Regions from separate parts of the Homo sapiens genome. Here region 2 is linked to region 1. Evidence: fine-mapped QTL for protein levels in blood plasma. Region 1 holds a variant in brackets. A gene starts in the other region. All regions are shown on their forward strands.

Evidence for each region. A credible set is the group of variants that fine-mapping cannot tell apart. PIP is the posterior inclusion probability: the model's chance that the variant is causal. Protein levels are from antibody-based Olink assays in UK Biobank. Linkage for the fine-mapping came from a reference panel and not from the study's own genotypes, which makes the PIPs less certain.
Region 2: MFAP4 starts here. The variant in region 1 is the best candidate, but not a certain one, in a credible set for the plasma level of the MFAP4 protein (UK Biobank, PIP 0.53).

What each region holds. Positions count from the first base shown.
Region 1 is chr3:52,735,517-52,740,889 of GRCh38, forward strand. It overlaps NEK4 (NIMA related kinase 4), which reads right to left. Exons shown (of 16, transcript NM_003157.6): 14 at 3,913-4,118; 15 at 2,070-2,203. It also overlaps the pseudogene LOC100499399. Among named protein-coding and RNA genes, the nearest start is that of SPCS1, 32 kb to the left of the region's middle. The variant G/A (reference allele first, on the strand shown) is at 3,070.
Region 2 is chr17:19,384,562-19,389,934 of GRCh38, forward strand. MFAP4 (microfibril associated protein 4) reads right to left here and starts at 2,629. Exons shown (of 6, transcript NM_002404.3): 1 at 2,589-2,629; 2 at 2,199-2,277; 3 at 1,749-1,903; 4 at 797-893; 5 at 538-720; 6 at 1-148. The coding sequence starts at 2,594. RefSeq lists enhancers at 917-1,462, 1,463-2,008, 2,009-2,554.

The DNA.
Region 1 (5,373 bases):
CTGTGTTTACAGATGTTACTCAGGTTAAGAAATGTGTTTTACGATCTACTTACCAGTTTCTCTTTTTGATCCAATGTATGAGATCTGCCCTGATAAATAACAAGGTATTGTACAACCCTCCCAAAAATAAGAGAAAAAGAGAAAACCCATGGCACTATGTAAAGTAAGCACACTTTGTCATTAGTAAATAGCTCAGGCATGCCTGGGGAATGTTCCTTTGCCAAAAATAGCAATCAATCATAATTAGTAAACAGGTGTGCCAATAAAAAGAATTTACATGATAAGTTAACAAGGATCAGGAAAGTAAGTTAATTTCCTGAAGGAGTTGTTTGTTTCTGATCAAATAAATTGATACCTGTTAGCATTCACTGCCACCTTATCTTAAGGGGAAAGAACTCTACTGGTGTCATCTGACCAGCCATTTAAAAATTGGAATCTAAAGTGATTCCTTAGTGGGGCAACAAGGATGGTTGCTGATGTACTGTGTGGTCTAGTAGGAGAAGTGGGGCAATATGAGAAGTGGAGGAAAAACCCGACTATGTCTTCCGTGGCATATTTACTCTTATTTTACTTGGTGCTAAATCAAATGAAACAAGCCCTTGTAACAGCTGTTATTAATTGCCTTTAAAAATCTGTCCTGTTTTTTCCCAGGTACTTAAAATACAAGTGCCAGTAAGTGGTTCTTATGTATTTTTGGCGGGGGGGAATTTATTTTCCTTTTCTTCTGATATTTTAAAAATCCATTGATCTTTCAAGATGAACCAAGGTTTTTAAAAATAATTATAGCAGGCCGGGCCTGGTGGCTCACGCCTGTAATCCCAGCACTTTGGGAGGCCGAGGTGGGCAGATCATGAGGTCAGGAGATCGAGACCATCCTGGCTGACACAGTGAAACCCAGCCTCTACTAAAAATACAAAACATTAGCCAAGCGTGGTGGTGGGCACCTGTAGTCCCAGCTACTCGGGAGGCTGAGGCAGGAGAATGGCGTGAACCAGGGAGGCAGAGCTTACAGTGAGCTGAGATCGCACCACTGCACTCCAGCCTAGGTGACAGAGCGAGACTCCGTCTCATAAAAAAAAAAAAAAAAAGAATTATAGTAAACACTTCATTCTTTTCTTTTTGTCCCACCCATCCCTGCCCAACTAGCACTTCATTCTTTATAAAACTTTCTATAATGCTTTATTTGAATGTTAATATTATGTGCTTTCTAAAAATGTTGTGAATTACCAAACTTATGGATTATCACTAGGTGATTAGGCATACATTAGTCTTTATCAGAATAAAATGAAATTTCATTTAAAAAAAAGAAAACTACCAATATAGAAATTCTTGAGTATGATTCACATTTAACTGCTGGCACTATAATTTCTAAATTTTTGATTTAGAATGTACATAGTTCTCATGTTTTAGGTAATAGGTAATAGAGTTTATTTTTTTTGAGACAGAGTCTTGCTCTGTCACCCAGGCTAGAGTGCAGTAGCGTAATCTCAGCTCACTGCAACCTCCGCCTCCTAGGTTCAAACAATTCTCCTGCCTCAGCCTCCCCTGCCGCTGGGATTACAGGTGCGTGGCACCATGCCCAGCTAATTTTTATATTTTTAGTAGAGATGAGTTTTCACCACTCACCACGTTGGCCAGGCTGGTCTGGTACTCCTGACCTCAGGTGATCCACCCACCTCAGCCTCCTAAAGTGCTGTGATTACAGGCGTGAGCCACCATGCCCAAGCTAAAGTTTAAATTTTCCTTAAAAAAAAAAAAGTGTCCAAGACCTAAAAGGGCTGAAACCAAAAAAACTCTTAGAAGAAAATATAAAAATAAATCTTCATGACTTCAGATTTGGCAGTGCGGACCATGGGGAGTGACTGCTAACAGGTGCAGGGCTTCTTGGGGCGTAATGAAAATGTTCTAATATCGATTGTGGTAATGACTGTACAATGTTGTAAACACATTAAAAACCACTGAATTATACACTTTAGATGAGTGAATTGTTATGTGTGATTTATATTTCAAAAGGTTGTTTAAAAAATTCTATAACATAAGCATCTTGATACAGTTAATGAGACACTCACCTCTCTATCAAATTCATCCTCCTCCTCCAAAAGATCATACACCTGCTCTAAAAGCTGAACTCCCAGGCCACGAATTACATCAGTTCTCAAGACTTCAACTAGTCTCCTGATCTTTTCAGAACCTGGCATAATAGCTAAAAGGCAACAACAAAGACAAAGGGAAAAATAAACACTTTTACCACTATAGCAAGAACACTGCAATTTTTTAAAATTTTGTATTTTATTTTATTTATTTATTTTATTTTTGAGACGGAGTCTTGCTCTGTCGCCCAGGCTGGAGTGCAGTGGCACGATCTCAGCTCACTGCAAGCTCCACCCCCTAGGTTCATGCCATTCTCCTGCCTCAGCCTCCCGACTATTTGGGACTACAGGGGCCCACCACCACACCCAGCTAATTTTTTGTATTTTTAGTAGACACAGGGTTTCACTGTGTTAGCCAGGATGGTCTTGATCTCCTGACCTCGTGACCCACCCACCTCAGCCTCCCAAAGTGCTGGGATTACAGGCATGAGCCACTGCACCCGGCCTATTTTTTTTTTTTAAGTGACAGGGTCTTGCACTGTCATAGGGATGTAGTGCAGTGTGACCATAGCTCACTATAGCCTCTAATTCCTGGGCTCAAGCAATCACCCTGCCTCAGCCTTCCAAGTAACCAGAACTACAGGAATGCACTACCATGTCCAACTAATTCTTAAATTTTTTGCAGTGATGGGGTCTATGTTGTCCCGGTTGGTCTTGAACTCCTGGCCTCAAGCAATCCTCCCACCTTGGCCTCCCAAAGCAATGAGATTACAGGCATGATGATACCACACCAAGCCTTTTTTTTTTTTTTTTGGTATTTTATTTTATTATTTTATTTTTATTTCATTTCATCTGATTTTTTGAGACAGGATCTTGCTCTGTCGCTCAGGCTGGAGTGCAGTGGCATGCTCATGGCTCACTGCAGCCTCAACCTCCTGGGTTCAAGAAATCCTCTTACCTCAGCCGCCTGAGTAGCTGG[G/A]ACTACAGGCATGAGCCACTATGCCTGGCTAATTTTTGTATTTTTTGTAGACACAAGTTTTCATCATGTTGCCCAGGCTGGTCTCAAACTCTTGGACTCAAGCAATCTGCCCTCCTCAGCCTCCCAAAGTATAGGCATGAGCCACCGTACCCAGCAGGGCTGTTTTTTTAAAAATCTTGTTATACTGACATTCTTTTTTCCCTCTGACAAGAGTTTGGTTTAATGACTTAAAATTTACATATGAACTTAAGCTTCACTACCATCTCTTAAACCTAAAAAACACCACAACTGTCTAACTTGAAGAAAAGTCACATGAAAAACCACAAACATTTATCTATTTATTTTTAAAAATTAATTTTCATGTAACTTTTCAGGAATACCTCTGTTGCAAAACACAGGATATACCTTTTATGGAGATATGCAAATGAAATAATTTTAAAAACACAAAAAAATTTATAGGCATTAGTTCCTTGTTTTGACACAGTTCTCCAATAAACACATGCTCTCCAGTTTGCTGTAAAAGAATAAACTAGGCCAGGCATGGTGGCTCACACCTGTAATCCCAACACTTTGGGAGGCCAAGGTGGGAGGATCACCTTAAGTCAGGAGTTCAATACCAGCCTGGCCAAATGGTGAAACCCCGCCTCTACCAAAAATACAAAAATTACCCGGGCATGGTGGTGCATGCCTGTAGTCCCAGCTACTTGGGAGGCTGAAGCAGGAGAATCGCTTGAACCCGGGAGGCAAAGGTTGCAGTGAGCCAAGATCACACTACTGCACTCCAGCCTGGGTGACAGAGTGAGACTCCGTCTAAAAAACAAAAAATAATAATAAGCTGATCACCTGAAGGTAGCTCTTTAAAATGGATTTCCTCTGCCTCTTCTGCAACCTTCCCATGAAGTATCAGTGTGTCCCGATATTTCCGATGAAGTTTGAATTCTGACACTGGGTTTGCTACCGGGACATCTTCACAGCTCTCTTTAGAATCCAGTTTCAGGGTCTGAGTCATCAATTGTACCAAGGCATTAATTTCATTTGTCTGACCTTTCCTGGGGGAAAAAAATATCCCTTTGTTATTTAATTGGCTTCATGAGAATTTTTCATTAAAAAATTACGTGCAAAACGACCTTTCGGGAATTATCCTTTGAAATGTCCAAGTAAGTTCCTACAGACTGACCTGACCCTTCCACAAATAACAACTATAAACTCTAGAAAAAATACAAAACTCAACAACGTAAAGGGAATGCAGAATAAACAAAATCTGCAGGCAGATCTTGGAGAAGAGTCAACACCTTTAAGCCTAAGAGCAGGCCATAGGCAGATCAAAGTACAAGAGAACTCACAATCTTGTGGGCCTACAGAAAGGACAGAGTTCAGAACAACCACTGTCACTAGAAAGTGAGACAGGAACCTTGGAGACAGTCTAAAAGAAACAGCCCCAGATTCTGTGTACAAATTCTGCCTATTTCAAAGTAACTTAACTATACTCAAGTACAAAGCTCAAGAATATTTAAAGAAACACAAAATACCAGCTTCCAATGAGGTAAAATTCAGTGTCTAGCATCCCATCAAAAATAACCAGATGGGCAAAGAAGCAGGAAAATATCATACATTTGTGAAGAGAAAGAAATCAGTTAATAGAAACATATCCAAAAGTGACACGACTGATAGAATTAATAAATGAGGACATTAAAATGGGTAGTATAAATATCTTCCATATGGCCAAGGTAGAAGAAAACATGAACATGTTAAAGAGAGACACAAAGACATTAAAAAAAGACCCAAATCAAATTTCTAGAAATGAAAGATACAATATATTAAATACACGGGATAGGATTAACAGATTAGACACTGCAGAAGAAAAGATTAATGAACTCAAAGACATAGCAATAGAATCTATGAAATGTGAAACAGAAAAAAAGTAAAAACAGGCCAGGTGCAGTGGCTCATGCCTGTAATACCAGCAGTCTGGGAGGCCGAGGTGGGCGGATCACCTGAGGTCAGGAGTTCGAGACCAGCCTTGCCAATATGGTGAAACCCAGTCTCTACCAAAAATACAAAAATGTAGCTGGGCGAGTGCCTGTAATCCCAGCTACTCGGCGGGGCTGAGACAGGAGAATACCTTGAACTCAGGAGGCAGAGGTTGCAGTGAGCCAAAATCATGCCACTGCACTCCAGTCTAGATGACAGAGTTAGACTCTGTCTCAAAAAATAAATAAATAAAATAAAATATATTTTTAAAAAGTAAAAATAAACAGAGCATCAGTGAGCTGTGGCACATATTTAAGGAGCCTAATATACATG
Region 2 (5,373 bases), not on the chromosome of region 1:
CCTAGGTAGAAGCCATTGAGGTTGGCAAAGTGGCAGCTGCGGAACCAGAAGGCTCCTGAGGAGAGAGCTGCGCAGTTCTGCACAAAGAGGTCCTGGTCCCGGTCGAAGGTAGAGAACTTCTGGCCACTGTGGTAGGACAGGGAGTCACCTGGCAGAGGAGAGAAGGGTTGGGGCTGCTGAGGCAGGGAACTGAGCCCCGAGCTGGCCGGGAGAGGGTGACAATGACGACTGTGAGAGATATCACGTGGCAGCCTGGCGGGATGGGGGCACCCTCCCTGAGCCAGATGTTGGGTTGATGTGCTTCTGCAATGAAGAGAAACAGCTGCTCCACCACAGAGTTGCCTGGAGCAGGGCCAGGATGGCTGCTCCCCAGGGCTGAGGCCCAAGCTGGTTTGAGCTTGTTTGGAGCCAGCTGTGGCCCTTCCAGATCCAGAAGGGTTGAAGGAGGGGCCTGAAGGAGGTTGGGGCTGACTGGGCAGGGCCAGCCCTGCCTTCTTTCCCCTCACAGCCCCTCCCAAAGCTAACAGCGGGTTATACCTGCCCCGCCATCCTCAAAGCCTGCCACAAAGAGGGTGTAGCCATCCTCCTCTGCGCTGACCGCGTTCGGGGAGATGGAGAAGTCAGCGTACTTGGCATAGGCCGTGTTGTTCTCAAAGTCCTCCAAGTCCACTCGCAGCTCATACTTCTGCTTCAGTGTCAGGAGGTGCATGTTCTGCAGCCCTGGGGAGGAGGGGCAGCTGGTCAACAAGGACCTGGCCCTGGGGCAGCCCCTCAGCCCACCTGGTCCCTGCCTTACCCAGCCAGTACTCTCCATCAGCACGGCCGAAGCCCAGCTTGTAGTCATTCCAGCCGCGGAAGAAACTTACTGAGCCATTGAATCTCTTCTGGAAAACCTGGAGCAGAGAAGATGAGACTGGATCATCAAGGGTCCAATGGGCAAGGTTCTGGTCCTGCCCTGCCCACCTCAAGCATGGACCCTGTGATGCTGTGGCCAGTTTGTTAAAGGACTGGGTTGGGGGTGGGGAGGGTGGTGGGAGTGGGGTTGCTAAAACAACGTCCACATTGGCACCAGGCCCCCTGTGGAGCAGTTGCCAGCACCCACCTGGGCTCTTCATACCCAGTTTCGTATAGAGGCAGGAAAGAGGCTAAGAGGGAGGCGTTCTAGAGTTCGAGTGCCTAGCTGTGGGATCTGGGCAAGTTACTTCACCTCTCTGGGCTTTAGTTCCTCACTACTTCCCAGGATTATTGTGAGGCTTATGTGCATTAACCTACCTCAGCTGGGCGCGGTGGCTCACGCCTGTTATCTCAGCACTTTGGGAGGCTGAGGCGGGCGGATCACCTGAGGTCAGGAGTTCAAGGCCAGCTTGGCCAACATGGTGAAACCTCATCTCTACTAAAAATAAAAAAATTAGCTGGGCATGGTGGCACATGCCTGTAATCCCAGCTACTCGGGAGCCTGAGGCAGGAGAATCTTTTGAACCTGGGAGGTGGAGTTTCCAGCAGTGAGCTGAGATGGAGCCACTGCACTCAAGCCTGGATGACAGAGTGAGGCTCCGCCTCAAAACAAACAAACAAACACCTACCTCAGGCACTTAGAATTAAGCGTTGGCAGCTGCTCAGAAGCTGTGCTGTGGGTATCATTATCCCCATTTTAAAGATGAAGAAACTGAGGTTCGCATATGTGAAGCCCAGGGTCACAGGGCTGGGATTAGAACCAGCTCTGGCCTCTGTTCCCTCCTCCCACTCACCGTCCACTTCCCGCCCTCGGTGGTCATGTCACAGAAGACGGGCACAGGCACACTGGGGCCCGAGGGGTAGATGAGGTACACGCCGTCTGACTGGTAGCCCTGGGCATAGATGTCGTCACAGTCCAGGGGTTGCTGAAGGCAAAACCTCTCCAGAGCTGGGGGTAGGGACATGGGGACAGTGAGGAGAGTGGGACTATGGCATCACTGACACCTCAGCACCCCAAGGTTTGCCTCAGTCCCTGGGGCTGGGGGACTTTGACACAAGGAGTCATGGAAGATTTCTTCAAGGGAGATGAGCAATGCTTATGTCATCCATCTGCCCCATTTTGTAAAGGAGGAACCTGAGTCCTGCAGAGCTGGGGCTCGGCCCTGACAGTCTGTTCTGACAGTCCAGCCTCTTCTTGCACAACCTGTGGGCCAGGCCGCGTCTGTGAGTGTGGGGCTGCTTACCATCTCCTCGGATCCCGGAGACCTGGGGGGCACACGGGGGCGTGGAGAGAAGCAGCAGCAGCGGCAGGGCCAGGAGTGCCTGGCGATGGGCAGACAGGGTCAGCACAGCCCCTTCCCAGCTCCAGAGATCCCCTGTTCTCTTTGCATTTGCCCCCACCATGCATGCACATACTGCCCTTGCCTGAATCCCTCTCCTGCTATTTGGCCCCTCTTCCCTGCCCCCCCACCCCGCCCGCCAAGTAACCCCACTCTCTGGGACGCTGTGTACCCTCATAGCTTACGAGTTTCAAGAGAACTCCTTGTGCCTTCATAGTGCCCTCTGTGGCCAGGGGCCTCTGGAGTGGGCTCAGTTCCCCCATGCTATGAGTCCCCCGACCCTGGGCCCCGTACCTTCATGCTGTCAGTTCTGCTCAGAGTGGCTGGGTGTCTGCGGCCCCAGACTGCAACCGCCCAGAGTTATGCGCTGGGCCCCCGCCAGCCGCCCCAGCCCCGCCCCCCTTCCCGTAGCTGCAGAACCCCCCTCTCCCCACCCCAGACAACCAGCATCAGTTTACACTATCAGGGGGCTGGGAGGTGGGGCTGGAGCCAGGGGACCACCTGTGTCTCATTAGTCCTGTCGGGCAAAGTACTGCAGACGTTAACTCCCTGCTGGCTCCAACTGTTCCCTGGATCCCACTCCATCCGCTATCCGCCATCTGCCACCCACCCTGCTAGACCTGTGGGCCCCCTGGCGCCCCCAGGCAGCCCCAGCCCGCCGCAGCCTGCCCCCTACTTCCTGATGGGCCCCCCTGCAGATGTCTGTTTATTCTTTCCCCTCCTTCCCTGGCCTGTGTTTCATCAGCCATTGAGGGGGAGGGCTGAGGGAGAGTGGGGGTGTCATATGCCTGGCTTCTGGGGACGGGAGGCCTGCTCTGGGGGAGCAGAAGGCTGAGGGGACAGTTTCAGAGCTCCTGATGTGGGAGCCTGGCTGGGGCTGGTGGGGGGACAGAGGCAGCAGTTTCTTGGCAGGCCTGGGACATTTCTGAGCCATGAGCACAAGGCTGCTGGCGTCCAACTGCTCTGTCTGCCCCAGCTCAGGCCAGGGCCCCTCTCCAGTCCCCCTCCCCAGCCCCCCTCACTCTGGCCACCTCAGGCCCACTCTTTTCCCCTCCCACAGTTCCCTGGCCCATCTGGCTCACATGCAATAGGTATGGGACCTCTTTTGTTTCTCCTCACTCCACCCCTCCTTTCTTCTTCCAAACCCTTCACTTTGGCTCCCACACCTCCCAGATTCATCTGAATCTCCCTACTTCTGGGCTCTCTCCTCCTATCCTTGGCACACTACCAGGAGAGTTGTTCTAGATGGCCTCTCAGATTATGTCACCCTGCTTAAAGCCTCATGGCTCCCTATTGCCTCAGGGCTGAGGCTAGGTTTCTCACCTTGGACATGAAAGGAATTTCAAGTCTGTCTCTGGCCTACCTTGAGGACCTTGTCCCTTATTGCTGTGACTCATAAACTACAGTGCAGCCACTCCAGACTTTTCACCATGGAGGTCCCCACTCTTTTGTGCTGCTCCTTGTGGTGCCCGCTCATCTGCCTCCTTTTGTTGGCCATAAGGGCCAGTGAGCAGGGTGTGTGTCTCATTTCTGCATGCTCAGTGCCCATCACAGAGCCTGGCACAGAGTAGGCTTGATATGTACATGCACAGTCACTTACGTATTTATATCTATATATAGATAAGATACTAGAGTCAGGGCCTTGCCCTGTTGCCCAAGTGCAATCATAGCTCACTGCAGCCTCAAGCTCCTGGGCTCAAGTGATCCTCCCACCTCAGCCTCCTAAGGAGCTAGGACTACAGGTGTGCCACCACACCCAGCTAATTTTTTAATTTTTTTGTAGAGATGGGGGGGGTCTCCCTATGTTGCCCAGGCTGGTCTTGAACTGGCCTCAAATGTTCTTCCCACCTTAGTCTCCCAAGAAGCTGGGACTACAGGGCCAGCACACCTGGCTCACAGATATCTTTTGAGCGCTGTGTGCTATAGGCTATGCTGGCTGCTGAGGATACAGTATCTGCCCCACAAGGAGTGGCAAGCACAGGTTTTGGACAGTGAATTGCAAATGTAAGGTGTATTACAAAAGGACATTTGTGTTGAATGGATGAACAGATGAAATATTCAAAGGCAAAGTGATGAGGCAGCTCTGGCTTAGGTCCCATCTCTCCACTCCTGAGTCAATAGATAAGCCCCTTGGCAAAGCCCCAGTTGGCCTCCCTGACTTGGTTCTGTGATTGCCTCTATTCATAGTTGTGTCTTGTGTCAGGCTACCTCAGTTCAAATCTAGATTCTGTTGCCTGTTAGCTGGGTGACCTTGCAAAAATTACCTAGTCTCTCTGTGCCTTGGTTTCCTCCTCTGTAAAATGAGGATAGTCATAGTATCTACTTCATAGGGGTGTGGTAAGGATTAAGTAATACATATCAAGTTCCTAAAACAGTGCCTACAAATGGCAGCTATTTAGTAAATATTAGCTATCGTCATCGTCATCATAAACATCATGATTCTCATATGAATGGGTTGTCTTCAACACAGCTTGTATGCTTGCCTGTGGAAGAGACAGTTGGCTGGCTCTCAATACTCGTTCTTCCCTTAGTCCTCAGTAGTAAGATCCTGATTTTTATCTGGGCTCATTGTCCAGCCTCCCTTGTAGCTAGGTGAGGTCACACATCTGAATTTTGGCCAACAAGATGCCAACAGGTATGTTGTAAAGGTAGGTGGCTTGTCCCTCTTCATCCTGCCCTCTGTCCTGCTGGATGTGATGGCTGGAGCTCTAGCTGCCACCTTGGACAGTGGGGATGAGGAAGATGAGGCCTCATCAGGGAATGGCAGAGGAGGAACTGGCAAAGCCTCTCACGACTTTGTGGAGTCGGTACAAAAACAGCCCTGGACTGCCCTCCTCTAGGCCTTTTTTATGCAGGAGAGAAAGAAACTTCTATGTATTTTAAGTGTCTGTTGTTTTTTTTTCTGTTACACACAGCTGAATCTAATCCTGATCTCTTCTTTCAGCAAATGCCAGCTAATTTTAACACAAGTCTATAAAAGGGAAAATAATGAAAAAAAATCAGTTATCAAAACAAATACTAAAATGGTCCAAAGTCAAGTATTGAAGACTTTTGGAGAATACCACTAATGAGCAAACAT